2 linked regions of the Homo sapiens genome follow. The protein of the gene in region 2 interacts with the protein of the main gene of each other region in a pairwise test. Each region holds a gene or a part of one and is shown on either strand. Other genes may lie near its edges.

The links.
Region 1: the proteins of SERPINA5 (region 2) and EPS8 interact in a two-hybrid assay, tested with the Homo sapiens proteins (one large-scale study listed by BioGRID and IntAct).

The regions. Positions count from the first base shown.
Region 1 is NC_000012.12:15,663,395-15,667,426, reverse strand, and holds part of EPS8 (epidermal growth factor receptor kinase substrate 8), read left to right. Parts: intron 1-904; coding exon 905-987; intron 988-1,534; coding exon 1,535-1,671; intron 1,672-2,320; coding exon of another isoform or gene 2,321-2,322; exon of another isoform or gene 2,323-2,633; intron 2,634-4,032. UniProt on the Homo sapiens protein: Signaling adapter that controls various cellular protrusions by regulating actin cytoskeleton dynamics and architecture. Depending on its association with other signal transducers, can regulate different processes.
Region 2 is NC_000014.9:94,587,926-94,591,425, reverse strand, and holds part of SERPINA5 (plasma serine protease inhibitor preproprotein), read right to left. Parts: coding exon 3,445-3,500; intron 1,386-3,444; coding exon 1,115-1,385; intron 678-1,114; coding exon 530-677; intron 1-529. UniProt on the Homo sapiens protein: Heparin-dependent serine protease inhibitor acting in body fluids and secretions. Inactivates serine proteases by binding irreversibly to their serine activation site. Involved in the regulation of intravascular and extravascular proteolytic activities.

The sequences.
Region 1 (4,032 bases), on a different chromosome or scaffold from region 2:
CTGGACTGGGATGCATTGGCCTCTCATTTAACTAGCAATGTGACCTTGGCCAGGCCCTTTTATACAAGTACTCCTCAGTTTTATTAATTAGAAGGAACTGATGAGATGCTCTTTTAAATATCCCATCATTTCTAAAGTTTTATGATTATCGATGCTTACTGTAAAAGAAATACAACATACATATTTGAGAAAACATTACAGAGAACAGGGAGGCCCAAACATAGATGGTGCATCTCATCAACATTCTAATATAGAGTAATGATCACTGGCTCTAAACAAACTTTGCAACCAAACAGAAACTTCGTATCTGCTAATCTCACGTTGCTCCCCAAGAAAAATCTAACTGAATGTTCTGGAAAAGTAGTGGAAAAGTTAATTGTTTGCAGAAAGTTAACTTTTACCTGAAGTGACAAAATAAAGTGGTTACCCAAAGGGGTAAAACCTAGCGTTGGAGTTTATCTTATGGGTGTAGTAGATTTGCCTTAAACTCAAAGATTTGTTTTGCTGGGTTAATGGGTGTCCAGTGGATCTTGAGGATGAGAAAGGGAAGGAACTCTGTTCTATGTGTGGGAGCCTCTAACCCCTTAATTTCTACCCAATTAGAGATTTTTACTCAGTTTCATTTTTAGCGTGTACATATCCTTTCTATCATTGCCTTTATTCAAGGATAGTTTCCCTTTAAGATAATCATTAAAAATTTCTTCAGTTTTTAAAATCTTATCATTATATAGTTCACCATTATAAAAACCACAAGAGTCATGTTTTGCAAGATTTTTATAAAAAGACTTTTTACATCAAGATACTTACTGATTCAGACAAGGAACAATCCCTTTTTCTGTTTTAAACTACATATCAAGACTCAGAAAAATCCATAAACTTTCAGGTAACTTGTGTCTCTTTGCAGGCAAACCTAATTAGTGAAGATATTGAAAGTGCAATCAGTGACAGTAAAGGAGGGAAACAGAAGAGGCGGCCCGACGCCCTGAGGTAAAAGCATTGAAAGAAATCAAGGAGTGGAATTGATTTGTTTCTAAGGCTTTTTTCCCCAAAGAGTTAGAAAAATTATTTTCTATGGAAGTATATTATTGTATTGTATAGATCATAACCTGTAGTCTCAACACATTTGTTCTCCCAAGTTTGTCAGTGTGTTTACTCCTCTTCTCTCCATATTTTTGGTCTTTCTCTGATATGGCTTCACTTGTGTTGGAAGTCACAGAGTCATGAAAGATGAGTGGCATTTTAAGAGAAGGTATCCTAGGGAAATACAAGCTAGACAGTAGGATTGTAATTGTTCCATGGCCCTTTCAAATCACATAAGACTCAGAAGGAAAATCAACCTAGTTTTCAGCTGACTATTAATTTTTTTATTTCATATGCATTCATAAATATGCATAATGTGTAATGCTTAGGAAATCCTTATTGTCCCTTGACATAGTTCTTTTTGAATTTTAATAACTAGTACCACAAGTTGAGTTAATTGATATGTTATAGAAATAGAGATGGTAAAAATTCTATTTGTTTTCATCTTTTTAAGGATGATTTCCAATGCAGACCCTAGTATACCGCCTCCACCCAGAGCTCCTGCCCCTGCGCCCCCTGGGACCGTCACCCAGGTGGATGTTAGAAGTCGAGTGGCAGCCTGGTCTGCATGGGCAGCCGACCAAGGGGACTGTGAGTCTTCCTAGAATTAATACTTATTGAACACTTACTTTGGGTTGGGACATAGTTCTTGCTTTCAAATTCTGATGCTGATTTCAGAACTGAAGCTTGAGGTTAGTTTTTAAAAAATCAACTCTGGCCGGGCGCAGTGGCTCATGCCTGTAATCCCAGTGCTTTGGGAGGCCGAGGCGGGCGGATCACCTGAGGTCAGGAGTTTGAGACCAGCATGACCAATATGATGAAACCCCGTCTCTATTAAAAATACAAAAATTAGGTGGGTGTGGTGGCATGCGCCTATAATCCTAGCTACTGGGATGGTTGAGACAGGAGAATCACTTGAACCGGGAGGCGGAGGTTGCAGTAAGCTGAGATCACGCCATTGCACCCCAGCCTGGACAACAAGACCAAAACTCCATTTCAAAAAAAAAAAAAATCAAATCTTAGATAAAATAAAGTTAAGCCTTGAATTTTGTTAAGATTATTATCTGTAAGAGTTTAGACCCACCATTTAATAAATATGGTATTAGGGTTAGAGTCTTTTTATTTTTTTAATGCTAAGAGGAAGTTTTACTTGATTGACAAAAAGATGGCAACAAAATATATACAGGTTTTTCTTAAAGATTGCACTTAACATTCTTTCCATTTTTTATTATCTAACTAGAGTCCCTTTTTGGACAAGTTTGTCATATTCATGGAAAGGTTGTCAGGACAGTGGTTGGCTGCTGGCAGTGGAGAAGGGTAAAAGGTATCCATCATATGACTGTTCTTGTCAAGTGGGCCCTATGAGCGTGGCATCATTTCACCTTGGCATTCTGTTTAAAAACAATTATAACATAGAACTTAGTGTTACTTTTTATATGTTAGAATATTTTACTAGAATCTGAAATGTTTATAACTAAAAAAATGCCTTAAAATATGTTTGGTCTAGTATCTTCATTTTAAGGACGAATAAATTGTGATTCAGCAGGCTCCAATCTGATGAACTCTAGAGCCTCATTCTTTTGCCGCTACTCCAGTGGAACTTCTTAACTTCTTATTCTTTATCCAGTAAAGTATTATTCACACAGGGTATCTGGCACTATAGTTAAACGATATAACTCATTTCCAAAAATGAGTCACCTCGGACTCTACTTTGGATGTGCAGAGTAAAAGTTGGACTCTGAAGCAAGACCTGATATGTCTACCTGTGTGGTCTTGGGAAGTTATCTCTCTGTACTTCGGTCTCATCTCTGAAATGGGGATAATAATTCATGGGTTGCTCTGAATCTGAAAGTAAATAATGTTTATGGTAGTACCTACTACAAAATAGTAAGCATAATTTGTGGTTTTCATTTTGCCAAATTGAGTTCATTTTCTTTCTGAATTGTTTTCTATTTTGTTTAGGTTTCTTGTATTCTTAAAGGTTTTTTCAGAGGTTGAAATGTAAGCCGAGCTACCAAAGATATGAAAAAAAGAATTCTTTGATGCATTTATTTAAAAAAAAATTAATTAACAGAGATATGTAGTTTAATTTTATAACAGTTTCCGTTTTCATAAGTTATGTAAATTTGTATTGATCTGCTTTGTATTTAAAATGTGTTTAAAAGACAGTAATTTATTGTATTCTATACTTTTTGTGTACTTATGGTGTTTTTGTTGTTACTGTTTCGATGAAGAGGGTCTGAAGTAGAGGAAGGATAAGACAAGTTTACAGACATTCTGAACAAACCTGTAAAAATATATGTTGAACCTAATATATATAATATATATTATGTATATTATATGTTGAACCATATATATATGTGTGTGTGTATATATATATATATATATATATATATATTATTTTTTTTTTTTTTTTTTTTTTTTTTGAGATGGAGTGTTGCTCTGTCACCCAGGCTGGAGTGCAGTGGTGCGATCTCAGCTTACTGCAACCTTTGTCTCCTGGTTCAAGCGATTCTCCTGCCTCAGCCTCCCAAGTAGCTGGGATTACAGGCGTGTGCCACCATACCTGGCTAATTTTGTATTTTTAGTAGAGATGGAGTTTCACTGTGTTAGCCAGGATTGTCTTGATCTCCTGACCTCGTGATCCTCCCGCCTCAGCCTCTGAAAGTGCTGGAATTACAGGCGTGAGCCACCATGCCCTGCTGAACCTAATATAATTTATAACAAAGACAGAATTTATCCCTAGGGGTTTCTGAGCTTTCATTAAATTTTATCTGAAATATTTTCTGCAATGTCATCTGTTTAAGTGAGATAAGGCTTTCAGAACTTCTAATTTACCACTAGCCTAAACAGAAGACTTATTATATCAGGTTTGGCCTGGGTCCAGTCCAGTTTTTAGTTGGAAAGCCCCTCAGGAGGAATATCTTTTTGGTTCCTCTGGATGCTCCAGCT
Region 2 (3,500 bases):
AGAGTAGAATGGAATGGAATAGAATAGAATAGAGTGGAGTGGAGTGGAGGAGTGGAATGGAGTGGAGTGGAAGAGTGGAGTGGAGGAGTGGAATGGAGTGGAATGGAAGAGTGGAGTGGATGAGTGGAGTGGAGTGGAGGAGTGGAGTGGAGGAGTGGAGTGGAGGAGTGGAGTGGATGAGTGGAGTGGAGGAGTGGAGTGGAGGAGTGGAGTGGAGATGTGGAGTGGAGGAGTAGAGTGGAGTGGATGAGAGGAGTGGAGGAGTGGAATGGAGTGGAATGGAATAGAGTGAACTGGAGTGGAGTGGAGTGGAGTGGAACTGAATAGAGTGAACTGGAGTGGAGTGGAGTGGAATTGAATAAAGTGAACTGGAGTGGAGTGGAGTGGAATTGAATAGAGTGAACTGGAGTGGAGTGGAGTGGAGTGGAGTTGAGTGGAATGGAATGGAATGAAATGGGGTAGAGTAGAATAGAAAGAATAGAACAGAATAGACCTTGGGAAGCAGATGCATAGGAGCTTCTGAACCCACCTCAGACACCTGGATATTTGAGTGGTTGCTGATGCCGGACAGATCAGCATGGGAGGTGAAGACGTTACTGATCCCCAGACTGGGGAGGACTTTCTCCAGCTGATAGGAGCCCTCAATGGAGAATTTGGGAAGGTAAAGCTCGAGCTGCCTGGAAAGGGAAAAGGAGCTTTCTTAGACTGTTCTGGGGCATTGGCACACTGAGCCTCACCCCTTGGATTCATAATGCACTGGATTCTTAGTTTTGATGGTTTTAAAAAAGGACTCCTTAACCCAAGGAACAATGGTGGTTATGGCTCCTCTGGCCTCTTTTCTAGGATGAGCCTCCCCTTGCTCTGGACTTGGACGTGGGCTGCCCAGAGGTCTCTGCCCACTCTGGCACCACCCTAAGGAACCCAGTTTCCAGCTCTTGTCCCTCCAACTGGGCTAGGCCCCCAGGACTTGGATGTCACAGGATGCCTCTGGGCCTGGAGGCAGCTCCTTGGCTGGGTGAGTCCTTCCCACCAGTGCTGTGTGGCCCTGGTAGGGCGTGTGTGTCTCCCTGGGGCTGTGTGGGTTTAGGCTGGCCCTGGGGTAGTCTGAAAGTACCTCTTTTTGAACATCTTAAGCCACTTCCTCAGCGTTTTCTCACTCAGTCCATTCTCCACCTGCTGCATCTTTCCCTCACTGGGGAGAATGAACAAAGCCGTGGCATTGCCTTGGTAGGGGACCCCCACCACCCTGCAGGAGAGGTTCCGGTCCAGGAGGTAGTGATACTGATCCTCGCGGCTCATCATGGGTACCCGCACCACAGTCTCCGAGGTCACGTAGAAGTCTTGCTCTTGGGTGCCTTTGTGGTTGAAGCTTGTCTCCCACTTAGCTAAAGATGAAAAAAGGGAAAAATGAAAAAGAATTTTGTGTCAGAATTAGAAATTCTCAGCTGCAAATAAAAGGAGTGAAGACAGTAAAGATAGCCAGCGGAGACCATCTTTATGGCAGCCCCAGAGCAGTGACTGTTGAACCTCTTGAATATGAAGGCAAGTCTCTTTATAACATTGGGCACATTCTTGGACTTTTCGTGGGACTTTTCCTTCCACATTTGCAAAACAAGGAGGTTGGTTTTCACATCTTCAGAGGCCCTGGACCCCTGATGTTCTCTGATTCTCTAACGTTTTACTCAAGACCAAATCTCCAAGTGAAGAGGGTGAAAAATGTGGCTGGCTGTGAATGCTACCTGATATCTGGGTGAACTTCTCTGTTTGCACTTTCATTCCAATATTTTGATTTAAATTTTAGAAAGAAGTTAGTATGGATCCTGGAAATGAATGGTTTTTCCCATTGGGAAGTCTTCAATGACCCTTCTCTGACCTTCCTATGGGAACTTCTGAACAAAACGCTACAAGTGATTGTTTCCAACTTCTTTTTATTTTATTTTATTTCTTTTTTTCTTTTTTTTCTTTTTTTCTTCTTTTTGAGATGGAGTCTCGCTCTGTGACCCATGCTGGAGTGCAGTGGCGCAATTTTGGCTCACTACAGCCCCCACCTCCCAGGTTCAAGTGATTCTCCTGCCTCAGCCTCCCAAGTAGCTGGAATTACAGGCGCCCACCACCATGCCTGGCTAATTTCTGTATTTTTTAGTAGAGACGGGGTTTCACTATGTTGGCCAGGCTGATCTCGAACTCCTGACCTCAGGTGATCTGCCCATCTCGGCCTCCTAAAATGTTGGGATTATAGGCGTGAGCCACCATGCCTGGCCTGTTTCCAACTTCTTAATCGTTATCGAAGGAAGACCCCAGTCAATACCGTCCTTAGCTTATTTCCCAGCTGCCCTCAGCAATCTGGTGTAATGGGGACTGCCCTGCACCAGGGGATAGGAAATCTCAGAGTCCAAGTTCGACACTCACTGCTGTGGTCTCAATGTTTGTGTCCCCACATTGTTCATATGTTGAAACCTAACCCCCAAGGTGGTGGTATTAGGACAGGGGGCCTTTGGGAGTTGATTAGGTCATGGGGGTGGAGCTGTCATGAACAGGATCGGTGTCCTTACAAAAGAGACCACAGAGAGCTGCCTTCCTCCTTCCAGCAAGGATATACTAAGAAGGCACTCTCTATGAACCAAGGAATGGGCACTGCATCTGCCAGTGCCTTGATCCTGGACTTCTCAGCCTCCAGAACTATGAGAAATATATGTTTGTTGTTGCTAAGCCACCCAGTTTATGGTATTTTGTTATAGCCACCCAAATGGCCAAAGATACTCATGATCTGTGACCATAGGAAGGGGAGGTGTTAACAATTTACCTTCCTTCGCAACCCTTCCCACCCTCTCCTCTCCTCTCTTCTCCTCTCTATCCACTCTTGCTTTCCCCAGGGTCAGCAACTGGCAGGAGCTGCAGAGGCGAGCAGGAATGCTTACAAGGAGTGTCGGGGAGATAAGCAGAGGTCAGCTCTTGCTGAGGAGTCAGGAGGAGGCATTTCAGAGGAACAAGCATTTGTCTGAGGGAGTCTTGGCCTCTATGAGGGCAGAGGGGCCAAGATCTGAGGGATACGGGGGACTGGGAAATGCCCTTTAAGCCCTTCTGGGGTCTGTGTCCTGCCCTGAGTGGCTAAGGTGTTGGTGTCTTTGCCATGGTGGCCACAATGGGTTCATACTTCAGAGCCTGTAGAAAGCTGGGGCTTCAGATGTCCCCAGGGGCCCGAAGACAGCAACCAGCTCTTCCTCCGTGGAGGAAACAGCATCTCAGCCTCACTAATCCCATCCACAGCAAGAAGGCATTCATCTTACCTTCTCTGGCTGCTTGTTTACTTAATTTTTCTCAACAGGCACCCAAAAGAACTTAACGTACTCCCCGTCTTTTATGTATGTGAGGGAATTGGGTATTCTTTAGATAAAAGCAGCAGAAAAGCCAAAGAAAGTGCAGGTTTGGGCCCAAGGGCCTTACCTTTAAAGAAGATGTAATTCACCATGATCACGACCGCATTGCTATCGAGGTTCTTA